Linked DNA regions of Homo sapiens: region 2 is linked to region 1. Evidence: fine-mapped expression QTL. A gene starts in region 1. The other region holds a variant in brackets. All regions are shown on one strand. Distances are between the middles of the regions.

Region 1 (5,358 bases):
CACTCTGAAATGGACACACAAAGTGGCAACTCCCTCGGCCGCCCCAAATCCTTTTATCTTAATCCCATCTGTGTATCTGCGTTTATTATTATTAGGCCTTGAGCTCCTAACCACTGCCCTGACACAAGCTTGTCCACTGTCAGACAAGTGACTCAAGTGACACAACGTCCTTCAGTGATGATCTCCTTATCTCTACATGGGGTTATCTACCCTCTCTGCCTGCCATTAGGGTCGTGTGCAATGACATCCACAAAGCGCTTCACCCCTGCTAAGTGTGGTGGTGCACACCTGTGGTCCCAGCTACTCAGGAAGCTGAGGTGGGAGGATCGCTTGAGTCTGGGAGGTTGAGGCTGCAGTGAGCTGTGATCACACTTGTGAATGAGCACAGAGAAAGTGCACTAGCGTCTAGGAGGGGCCCAGAAGAAACCAGTTCTGTGAAGCCCCCTCTGCCCACCATCCTGGCCCACACCTGCTTCTCTCTCCCCCGGACTGGCCAGGACATCACTAGCCGCTTCCTGGCCCAGAGGAACACGGAGGAGAACCTGGAGCTGCAGATGGAGGACTGTGAGGAGTGGCGGGTGCAGCTGAAGGCCCTGGTGAAGCAGCTGGAGCTGGAGGAGGCCGTGCTCAAGTTCCGCCAGAAGCCTAGCTCCATCAGGTGCCCCGGGCTTCCGGGGCTGCGGGCCACCCACCCCAGTCTCACAAAGGCCCCGGGCTGCAGCCAGGCTGGGAGCTGGGAGTATACCCACTGCCAACAAGCCTGTGTGTCCCACAGAGGGGCCAGGGGACTCCACTTGCACACACCTGAGCTTCTGAGTCCCTGATTCTGGCACAGCACCCAACTCAGGACTGGGCTCCTGGGTGGCCCACCATGGCTCTCGGGCCTGTGCCCCTCACTGCTGTGTCCCTATTGCCTTCTGCAGCTTCAAGTCCGTTGAGAAGAAAATGACAGACATGCTAAAAGAGGAAGAAGAGAGGCTCCAGCTGGCGCACAGCAACATGACCAAGGGCCAGGAGCTGCTGCTGACCATCCAGATGGGCATCGACAACCTCTATGTCCGGCTGATGGGCATTAACTTGCCTGCGACCCAGGTACCGGGAGTGAGGCTGAGCTGCCACACACCAGGTCCCTGGGCAGGGCCAGAGGGGAGATGAGACCCTCCTCCCGGCCTACAGAGAGAAGTGGTGCTCTCCAACACCCTCGATTTGAACAGCAAGCTGGCGTACTGCGAGGGGAAGCTCACGTACCTGGCTGACAGAGTGCAGATGGTGTCCAGGACCGAGGAGGTAGCCCCGGGCTGGGAGGAACCTGCACAGCCCACGTCCCCTCAAAGCTGACAGGCTCCCGTTCAGAGTGTCTGCACGGCTGAAGGGGGCTTTGCCCTGCAGGGCGACACAAAGGTGAGGGACACCCTGGAGTCCTCGACTCTGATGGAGAAGTACAACACCAGGATCAGCTTTGAGAACCGGGAGGAGGATATGATCGGTACAGGCCCCGGAACTGGGGCCCGGGCTGCAGGCGGGTGGCTGGAACACAGGTCGGGGTGGCGCCGGCTCCCATCCCACCGGGACATCCTGGAGGGACAGCGGGGCTACAGGGTGCATCAGTTGTACCTGCAGGACTTTAATTGATGGAGGTGACTTAGTGATGCCATGGGGAGGCTAAAGCCACTGAAATACCTTGTTAATTTCTCCGAAAGGAGGAGGCATGCCATGCCAGACGGGCCCGGAGGAGAGGCACCAGGGCTGGAGCAGGGAGGAGCGCGGTGAAGGCCTGGGCCGGAGCTTCCACTGGGGGTTCTGCGGGAAAGGCTAGGCAGGGCAGCGTGAGCCGCTGCGAATGGGCTGGGCTGAGTCCTCCCGGCACGCTGGGGCTGTCCCTGGGGCAAGGCACCTGGCCCGGGTCGGTGGAGGGCGGGGGCGAGAGGCGGGTCGGGCGGCTGCGCCTAGCTGGGCTAGCCCCGTGTGCGAGCCGCCGCCTCCGCCCGCAGACACCTTCCAGTTCCCCGACATGGACCACAGCTACGTCCCTTCGCGCGCCGAGATCAAGAGGCAGGCGCAGCGGCTAATCGAGGGGAAGCTCAAGGCGGCCAAGAAAAAGAAGAAGTAGCCCCGCCGCCCCGCTCCCTGCTTTGCTACACAAATAAACATTTTTCCAGGACTGCTGCGGACGCTGGGGCGACCGGGGTCTCGGAGAGGAGCACGGGACACGCAGGATCGGGGGAGGTTCTGCGTAAGGAGGCAGCCCGGGCCCGGAACTGCGCGCCAGAACCGCGTGCGCATGCGCCGACCGCGCGCGCCGCGCCCCCGCGGCCCTCGCGGCGCCCCGTAGCCGCGCACCCCTCCCGTCCCGCCGAGCCGGCGCCAAGATGGCGGCGCTGACTCCTGGAGAGCGGTCGCGCCGGAGGCCGCGGGGGCCGGAGCGGAGCAGCCGCGGCTGAGGTTCCCGAGTCGCCGCTCGGGGCTGCGCTCCGCCGCCGGGACCCCGGCCTCTGGCCGCGCCGGCTCCGGCCTCCGGGGGGGCCGGGGCCGCCGGGACATGGTGCCAGTCGCACCCCTTCCCCGCCGCCGCTGAGCTCGCCGGCCGCGCCCGGGCTGGGACGTCCGAGCGGGAAGATGTTTTCCGCCCTGAAGAAGCTGGTGGGGTCGGACCAGGCCCCGGGCCGGGACAAGAACATCCCCGCCGGGCTGCAGTCCATGAACCAGGCGTTGCAGAGGCGCTTCGCCAAGGGGGTGCAGTACAACAGTGAGTGCGGCGGGCCGGGGGGGCGCGGGAGCGCCGCGCGGGTCTCCGAACCCAGGCCCCGGGCGCCGCGCGGTGGTGGGTGTCGGTCTCACCTGCTTGCCGGTTGTGGGGTGCGCTGGGCCCGCCGGGCGCTCCGGGAGCGGGGGCGCGGGCCAGGGGACGCGAGGAGAGGCCAGGCCAGGGCCGGGTCCTCGCGGCCCCCGAGCCGCGGGTCGTTTCCCAGCCGCACTCGCCTGCCGCGTGTCGCTCCCGCCGCGCTGTGCAGTGGAGCGGGTCGGCGGCGGCGGGGTTGGCCCGGCTGCCCGGCCCGGGGGTGATTACATAATGCCAAGCAGGGCCCGCCGGCCCGGGGCGCCGCGCCCCCGACGCTCCACGGTGCCCAGCCCCGGGCACCACTCACCTGCAGGAGGTGCGGGGAACCCAGCCGGCCTTGGCGCTTTCAGCGGGATTTTTCTTTGTTGACTTCCTACTGAGTTTGAAGACAGAATATTAGCTACGCCACACATTCTCGCCTTTTTTTTTAAAAGAAGCGTTTGTAAGAGACGTATCTAGAAAAGCTCCAGAAGGCACGGGCTGACTTGCGACTGTAGGAGACATCCCATTTCTCGTAGGAAGGAGGAGTCATTTACGGACTCCTGAGTGCCTGGGACGCTCCATTCCTTTGTTATAAATTGTGTAAATTGTCCTCGACCTCTTATGAGTTTTTCCATCTTGCGGGCTCTTTCCCAGTAGTTTTTGAAAGCTTTTATGTGGTTCCCTGTTTTGACATTGCTTCCCTCTTAGCCATTTCCGTATGTTTCTATGAGGTTTTAGGACGCTACGCCTATCCAGTTTTTTGGTCACTTTAAGGGGAGCCTTAGAGCCTCCGTGATATTTCCATGGTAATGTAGAATTTTAAGAACTAATGATCAGAAAGACTCTTGTGCAGGTTTAAAAGCAAGTTCATGAATTCGCGTGCCGTGTGCACGGAGAGAGGCCGTAGTTCCTGGGGCTGGAGCTAGTCCAGGAGGACAGTGAAGATGTCGCCTTCCTTAGTCCCCCGGCCTGTGAGCAAGAGGAAGCTGCAGACCACTCGGGCCACCCTCACCCAGACACCTTTAGCAGTAAGCAAGATAAAACAACTTCTTAAAGATAAGTCTGAGCATCTAGGTATGAAAGTTGGTGTCCGGGCCGGGCACGGTGGCTCATGCCTGTAATCCCAGCACTTTGGGAGGCCAAGGCGGGCAGATCACGAGGTCAGGAATTCGAGACCAGCCTGGCCAACATAGTGAAACACCGTCTCTACTAAAAATACGAAAAAAAAATTTAAAAGAAAGTTGATGTCCGAACCAAGGGCCGTATTGGCTTTTCTTATACTCTAGAACATACGACGACAAAGAAGATTTTGATGAAGTTCAAATTAGAGTCAGCGTGCTCATCAGAAAGAAAGCGCAGCCAACACGTTTAGGAACAGAAACGGATTATGTTGAAGACAAACAATCCATTGCGTTTGTGTTCAGTAACCCAAGCATCAAAGGAACTTGTGGCTGGGGAGAAGGCTTGACTATTTGAAATCTCAGGACTCCTCTGTCCAGGAGCTCCCAGACTCCCGTGGAGTGGAAGCCTGGGGGCTCGCTGAAGAAGTCACGTGACTGGAACGTGCTTAATGCTTGGCTGTCTGGTAAGGAAAATAAAGTGGTGCATTTTGAATAAAAATAAAAGCTGATTTTAAATGTGTTATAATTGAAACTTTATACATAGCTGGCATTCGGAGAAGAGAATATTGAGTCAAAATAACTGAGTTTACGCCAGTTTTTAGACTCTGCGTTTGGATCCTTTATTTAATTTTATTGCTTACAGTATTGGCTAAGCTCAGTATTAGTCCCTGGGAAATCAGGCCTGGACCTGGAAACTGTTCACCTTCTGAAAAGGCTCCCCGAGGGTCCTGGGCAAGGTCCACCTCATGCACCAGGACCACCCCTGTGTGGTCCTGGGCGAGTGTGACTAAAAAGGGCAATGGGGTCCTTCCAGAGGAGAAAAGCCAGTCTCCAGTACTTGGAGAACAGGTTATGATCTCCTAGAACTGAATGAAAGGTGGTGAGACAGAGAGAAATTTGAATTTGTACCTAAATTACATTTTAGAAAGATGTTATCTTTATAGCTGAATAACATGCAATTTTAAAACTTTTGAGTTTCTGTGTTAGAATAGAAAGTTTCTAGTATTTCTTTTCTTTTCTTTTCTTTTTTGAGACAGAGTTTTGCGTTTTGCTGTGTCTCCCAGGCTGGAGTGCAGTGGCGTGATCTCAGCTCACTGCAAGCTCCTCCTCCCGGGTTCACACCATTCTCCTGCTTCAGCCTCCCGAGTAGCTGGGACTATAGGCACCGGCCACCACGCCCGGCTAATTTTTTGTATTTTTAGTAGAGGCAGGATTTCACCGTGTTAGCCAGGATGGTCTCAATCTCCTGACCTCGTGATCTGCCCGCCTCAGCCTCTCAAAGTGCTGGGATTACAGGCGTAAGCCACCATGCCCGGCTTTCTGGTATTTATTTTCTCAAATATTTTACAGAGCGTAACAGACCAGCAATGTGATCAAGACAGAGTCGAGGGTTTTGGGGGTGAGAGTTTCTGGGAA
Region 2 (5,358 bases), 88 kb before region 1:
AGACTCCAGAAATCTTTGGGAGGGAGGATGTTTAGCAGGAAGCCTGGGGTGGGCAGCTGGCCTCACTGCTCCGGGATAGAGACCCCCGTGTGGTGTCCTCACTGGATGGGATAGAGACCCCCGTGTGCTGGCCTCACTGGTCCAGGATAGCGACCCCCGTGTGCTGGCCTCACTGGCCTGGGATAGAGACCACCGTGTGCTGGCCTCACTGGTCCAGGATAGAGACCACTGTGTGCTGGCCTCACTGGTCCGGGATAGAGACCCCCGTGTGCTGGCCTCACTGGTCCGGGATAGAGACCCCCGTGTGCTGGCCTTAGTGGCCTCGCTAGCCCCCCTGGGACCAGGGGTCCCCTGAGGCAGGTGGCAGGGCAAGGTCCTCCACAGCCTCCACCTCAGGGAGATAGGGCTAAGTCCCCTGGCGTATGTGAGCATGTGTGTGTCTGGGAGCAAACGTGTCCACATGAGTGCACACCAAGGTGACCCCCTGCCCCTCTCCACACCCTGTGACTAGCTCAGAGGGGAGGTCATCCCAGCTCTGTCTTCCTGGCAAACCCTAGACTCGCCCAGAACTGGGCAGGTCCCCCACTGAATTTTGACCCCAGGCTGCCCGATGACCAGGGTTCCGATGCCTCCACTCCCCTTGGGGTCAGGCCTGGGCATAGAAGGATCTGGCCTGTAGCAGCGGCCACTGTGGGTTGTCATAGGGTGATTGGGTGCAGGGAGACCCCAGGTTCGGTGTCTCCTCCGTCAGATGGGGAGAGCACCTCTCCTGGCAACTGGGTGGTGGATGAAGCTAGCCGGGTGGGCCTGGGCAGGCCTGTGTCCCACAGAGCCATGTCTGACGGGGGCCACATGTGGAAAGGCCCAGATGTGGCAGTGGAGGACTGGGGTGTGGGGTCCGGAGCTAGGAGAGCTTCTGTGCCCAGGACTTGTTTGGAGCCCATGCCAGCCCAGGGGAGGCCTCCGGGCCCCTGGACCAGGCCTTGCTCACCCTTGAAGTCCAGGGGGCCTCTGAGCCCAGCAGGGCCGGAGGGTGGCACATGGGGCTCGTCCTGGGGCCATGGGTGGGGAAGGCTGTGCCCCGATCAGATGCACCCCTGGAGCTCCTAGAAGGACCAAGGAGGTGGAGGGGCCGGACCTCCGGGCCGGGATGTTGTGGGTGGGGGCGGGTGGGGGTGAGCAGAGGATTCACGTGGCCAGGCAGGTTCTGAGCACCTACTGGGTGCCGGGCCGCAAAGCAGGAGGAGGTGCCCCCACAAACAAGAGGAAGCTGCAGCGTCGGTTTCCCAGGGTGCCCTGGCCCTTTGCCCAGTGGGGGTTTCCCTGGCTGCTCAGAGCCTTCCCAGAGGTCAGGCCAAGCCCAGCTCTCCCGAAGCCACCCCAGGGGCCATGGAGACGTCCCCTCCTTCCCAGAGGAGGTTCCCTGCCCGGCCTCGTGGGGGCATTGGACGCCTCAGAGAGGCGCAGAGGCTGGCCCAGCGCACACAACGAGGCAGCAGCAGTGCAGGGCCAGTCCCAGCTTCCACCAGGGCCCTCGCGAGGCCAAGAACTAGACCGTGAGTCCCCACTGAGCCCTGCTGCAGGCGGGGAACAGGCTGGGCGGTGAGGGGACCGATGTGCGGCAAGGGCCCTGAGGAGGCCAAGCACACGCCCGCCTCAGCCTCTGAGGAAGCCTCTCCACACTCTGCTAGGTGCTGGTAGGTGCCCAGGACCATGGAGGCAGCTCCATCTCCCCACCCCTGGGGGACCCTGGAGCCCCAGCCCCAGCCCCAGCCTGGCAGACAGCAGTGTGGCCCACAGGCTCCTTCCCCAGCACCACTGTGTGCCAGGAGCAGGGCAGCCTCCTGCGGTCCTGGGGCTCCGGGCACAGGGGCTGGTCTGGGGCTCCGGGCGCAGGGGCTGTGTGATCTGGGGCTCCGAGTGCAGGGGGCTGTGTGGTCTGGGGCTCCGGGTGCAGGGGGCTGTGTGGGCTGGGGCTCCGGGTGCAGGGGCTGGTCTGGGGCTCTGGGTTCAGGGGGCTGTGTGGTCTGGGGTTCCAGGCGCAGGGGCTGGTCTGGGGCTCCGGGTGCAGGGGGCTGGTCTGGGGTTCCGGGTGCAGGGGCTGTGTGGTCTGGGGCTCTGGGTGCAGGGAGCTGGCTGGTCTGGGGACGGGAGTGGACTCCGGTGGCAAAGGGCCTGCCTGCAAGGTGGAGGGTTGGACAAGTGTGCAGTTTTCCTTCATTTTCCTTTTCTGTCTTGACGAAGAGCCGGCGTTTTCTTGCTGCCGGGACAGACGCTGCCTTCATGACTCACGTGGCGGGGTCCTCGGCCTCCAGTTGGCCCATCTCACTTCTGTCCCCATCCTTGGTGTGTGGGGGGCGGGGACCCTCCCTCCTCCCCAACCCTGGAGGGCGGGGTGTTCCGCAGCTCCCTTCCCCAGCTCCCTCCAAGCCTGCTTGGCCAGGCTCCATGGCAACTGAGGCTGTACATCCAGGAATTCTCCCCCCCCCAGAGGGGCGGGCCAGCTCCATCCCTCCATCACCTCCCGTGGGGCGCTGGGATTGAGGGGCTGCCAGGCCCCTGGAGCTAGGGTGGGGGCTGAGGAGGGGCGGCAGCCAGCCCCAGGCCTGATGTAATTACTGCTAACAAAGTCTCCCTGGGGGTCTGGCTAAGGAGGGGGCCTGTGGGACAGGGAAGGACAGGCCCGGAGTCATTGTGGGGCCCCAGGGGTCCGTTTTCTCAGCCTTGACAAACAGCTCTGACAACGGAGCGCTTGAGCCTGGGCACTGGCCTCGGAGGGCTGGGAGAGGAGGTAGAGGCTGGGGCTCCGTTGCCGGCTCCACCCCAGGGGTACCCTTGAGACTGTCAGCTCTGGTGGTGAGCCCTGTCCTGGCTGCACTTGAGGCAAACAGTGAGGCCGC[A/G]GCCTGTCCTCCTGCCTCAGCCTGGGGAAGGCTGGGCCGGGCCAAAGAGGGAGGCCAAGTCCTTGGGACAGGAGGAGACCCACACCTGAGATTAGTGGAAACCCAGCCAGAAGCTGCCATGCAGGTGTGGCTCTGGGCATCAGGATCTGTCGTGAGAGCCCCCATGAGTGCCCAGTGCAGAATGGCTGGCAGCCCGCCCTGACGGGGAGCAGAGGGGCTGGACGCGGTGCCCTTCACGGGATGACACCCAGCTGTTTGCCCTGTGTCCAGGGGGTTGCTTCTCTGACAGAGGCCCTATGGCTCGTGTCTGACTCCTGTCCAGGTTCTGCCAGCCTGACCATCCATCGCTCTGGCACCAAGAGCCCACCCTTTTGTTCTTCCTGGCGTCCCAGGGAAAGCCCTGCCTGGGTGGGGCAGCTCCTGGCCCTTCAGATGGAAGACGCAGTCCAGTCAGCACCATCATAGGAAACAAGTTCAGAAATGTCTCACTTACTATTCCGGGCAGGGAGGGCGCCATGAGTCAGGGGGTGCATCCTCCCTCCTGGCGTCACCCGAGGCAGGAATGAAGAGTCAGGCAGAGAGCGCGCGTGTGGCAGCTGGTGGTGTAGATATTAGGGACTAGTGTGAATTCTAGTTCACCGGCCAATGCCTGGATGGTCCAGAGCTGGGTCGGCTGGGCGGAGAGCTGCCTCCAGGTTCCTGCCTCTGGCCCTGGCGTGGGGTCGACACTGGGTGTGGTGTGTGTCTCATGTCCAGGCAGTGGCCTTTGCTGTGCCGTCCTGTTACAGGAGCCAGGATGGTGGGGACGGGACCGGACCGGAGGGTTGGCGGGGCTGCCCCTGCAGCCGACAGCCCCATCCTGCAGCCACCAATGGCATGACCCAGGGCCCCGGCACTGCCTGTGTGAGGGGCTGGCAGCTTTCCAACTGCAGCAAGTGGAGGCCCCTGCCAGCTTCGGGCCTGTGGGCAGGGGCTCAGTGGGGCAGGGGTGTGGCTGCCCCGCCCGGCACGCCTGCACCTGTCTCCTCAGTGTGACCAGTACCGCAAGGGGATCATCTCGGGCTCCGTCTGCCAGGACCTGTGTGAGCTGCATATGGTGGAGTGGAGGACCTGCCTCTCGGTGGCCCCGGGCCAGCAGGTATAGCCACTGGCAGGGCGGGTGGGCCTGGGGCTGATACTGCCCGTGCAGTGGGAGGGGGATGTCTGCACGGAGGACCTCTGTGGCCCTGTCCAGGTGTACAGCGGGCTCTGGCGGGACAAGGATGTAACCATCAAGTGTGGCATTGAGGAGACCCTCGACTCCAAGGCCCGGTCGGATGCGGCCCCCCGGCGGGAGCTGGTACTGTTTGACAAGCCCACCCGGGGCACCTCCATCAAGGAATTCCGGGAGATGACCCTCAGCTTCCTCAAGGTCAGGCAGCTCTCCTAGGGGGCAGGGCAGGAGTCCACACCACGGTCATATGCCCAGCAGGCGGCCCTGGCACCAACATGCCCAGCGCAAAGGCACAGATGGGCCCAAGTGGACCCTGGGCAGACCTCCCATCCCCCAGCCCCTGGGCATGAGCCCTGCCAGGGAAGGAGCCTCTCCAGGGCTGGGGGCAAGGGTTGGGGGCGCCGGTGGGCTGGCAGCTGAGGTCGAGGGGAGGCTCCTGCAGTCAAGGGCCGTGTGTCCAGCAGGGCAGGTGCCCCGAATGGAGACCAGGGCTTGTGGAAAGGGGCCGCTTCCCAGGGCTTCAGCCAGTGCGTGCCCTCTGCCCTGTGCCGATTCTCATCCTCAGGGAAGCTCTGAGGCTTCTCTGCCCAGGTGCCCACCCCCGAGCTCCCCAGGTGCACCCAAGGCTGCCAGGAGGCGGGAGGTCTGTCTGGCAGCAGCCACACAGGCCAGCAGAGTGAGCTGACACATTGCTGGCTGCGTCCTCCACCCGTGTAGCTGTGGGCTGGGACCCCTAACCTGGCAGATGTGCTGGTCTGGCCGGCAGACCACCCCGCCAGGAGGACCAGGTAAAGGCCAGGTCGTGCTCCCAGACATCAAATCAGCTGGCTTTTCCTTTCTTTTGGTCCCAAACGCCAGGCGAACCTGGGAGACCTGCCTTCCCTGCCGGCGCTGGTTGGCCAGGTCCTGCTCATGGCTGACTTCAACAAGGACAACCGGGTGTCCCTGGCGGAAGCCAAGTCCGTGTGGGCCCTGCTGCAGCGTAACGAGTTCCTGCTGCTGCTGTCCCTGCAGGAGAAGGAGCACGCCTCCAGACTGCTGGGCTACTGTGGGGACCTCTACCTCACCGAGGGCGTGCCGCATGGCGCCTGGCACGCGGCCGCCCTTCCACCCCTGTTGCGCCCACTGCTGCCGCCTGCCCTGCAGGGTGCTCTCCAGCAGTGGCTGGGGCCTGCGTGGCCTTGGCGGGCCAAGATCGCCATCGGCCTGCTGGAGTTCGTGGAGGAGCTCTTCCACGGCTCTTAC

The links. PIP is the estimated chance that this variant, and not a neighbour inherited with it, causes the effect.
Region 2: its variant is the best candidate, but not a certain one, in a credible set for the expression of CCDC183-AS1 in whole blood (TOPMed, PIP 0.56).

Annotation. Positions count from the first base shown.
Region 1 is chr9:136,805,581-136,810,938 of GRCh38, forward strand. CCDC183-AS1 (CCDC183 antisense RNA 1) reads right to left here and starts at 3,268. Exons shown (of 5, transcript NR_024580.1): 1 at 3,147-3,268; 2 at 1,249-1,622; 3 at 805-957; 4 at 470-548; 5 at 1-4. CCDC183 (coiled-coil domain containing 183) reads left to right here. Exons shown (of 14, transcript NM_001039374.5): 10 at 498-658; 11 at 924-1,092; 12 at 1,177-1,287; 13 at 1,390-1,486; 14 at 1,992-2,161. The coding sequence ends at 2,110. RABL6 (RAB, member RAS oncogene family like 6) reads left to right here and starts at 2,368. Exons shown (of 15, transcript NM_024718.5): 1 at 2,368-2,746. The coding sequence starts at 2,617. It also overlaps the pseudogene LOC100422233. RefSeq lists enhancers at 1,312-1,907, 1,908-2,504 and silencers at 1,780-2,009, 2,210-2,379, 2,430-2,489, 2,510-2,639, 2,650-3,179.
Region 2 is chr9:136,717,991-136,723,348 of GRCh38, forward strand. It overlaps DIPK1B (divergent protein kinase domain 1B), which reads left to right. Exons shown (of 5, transcript NM_152421.4): 3 at 3,931-4,038; 4 at 4,135-4,311; 5 at 4,972-5,358. It overlaps LOC124900276 (cuticle collagen 2-like), which reads right to left. Exons shown (of 5, transcript XM_047424334.1): 5 at 1-5,358. The coding sequence starts at 2,285. The coding sequence ends at 1,350. Among named protein-coding and RNA genes, the nearest start is that of SNORA17B, 5.6 kb to the right of the region's middle. RefSeq lists an enhancer at 1,450-1,499. The variant A/G (reference allele first, on the strand shown) is at 2,901.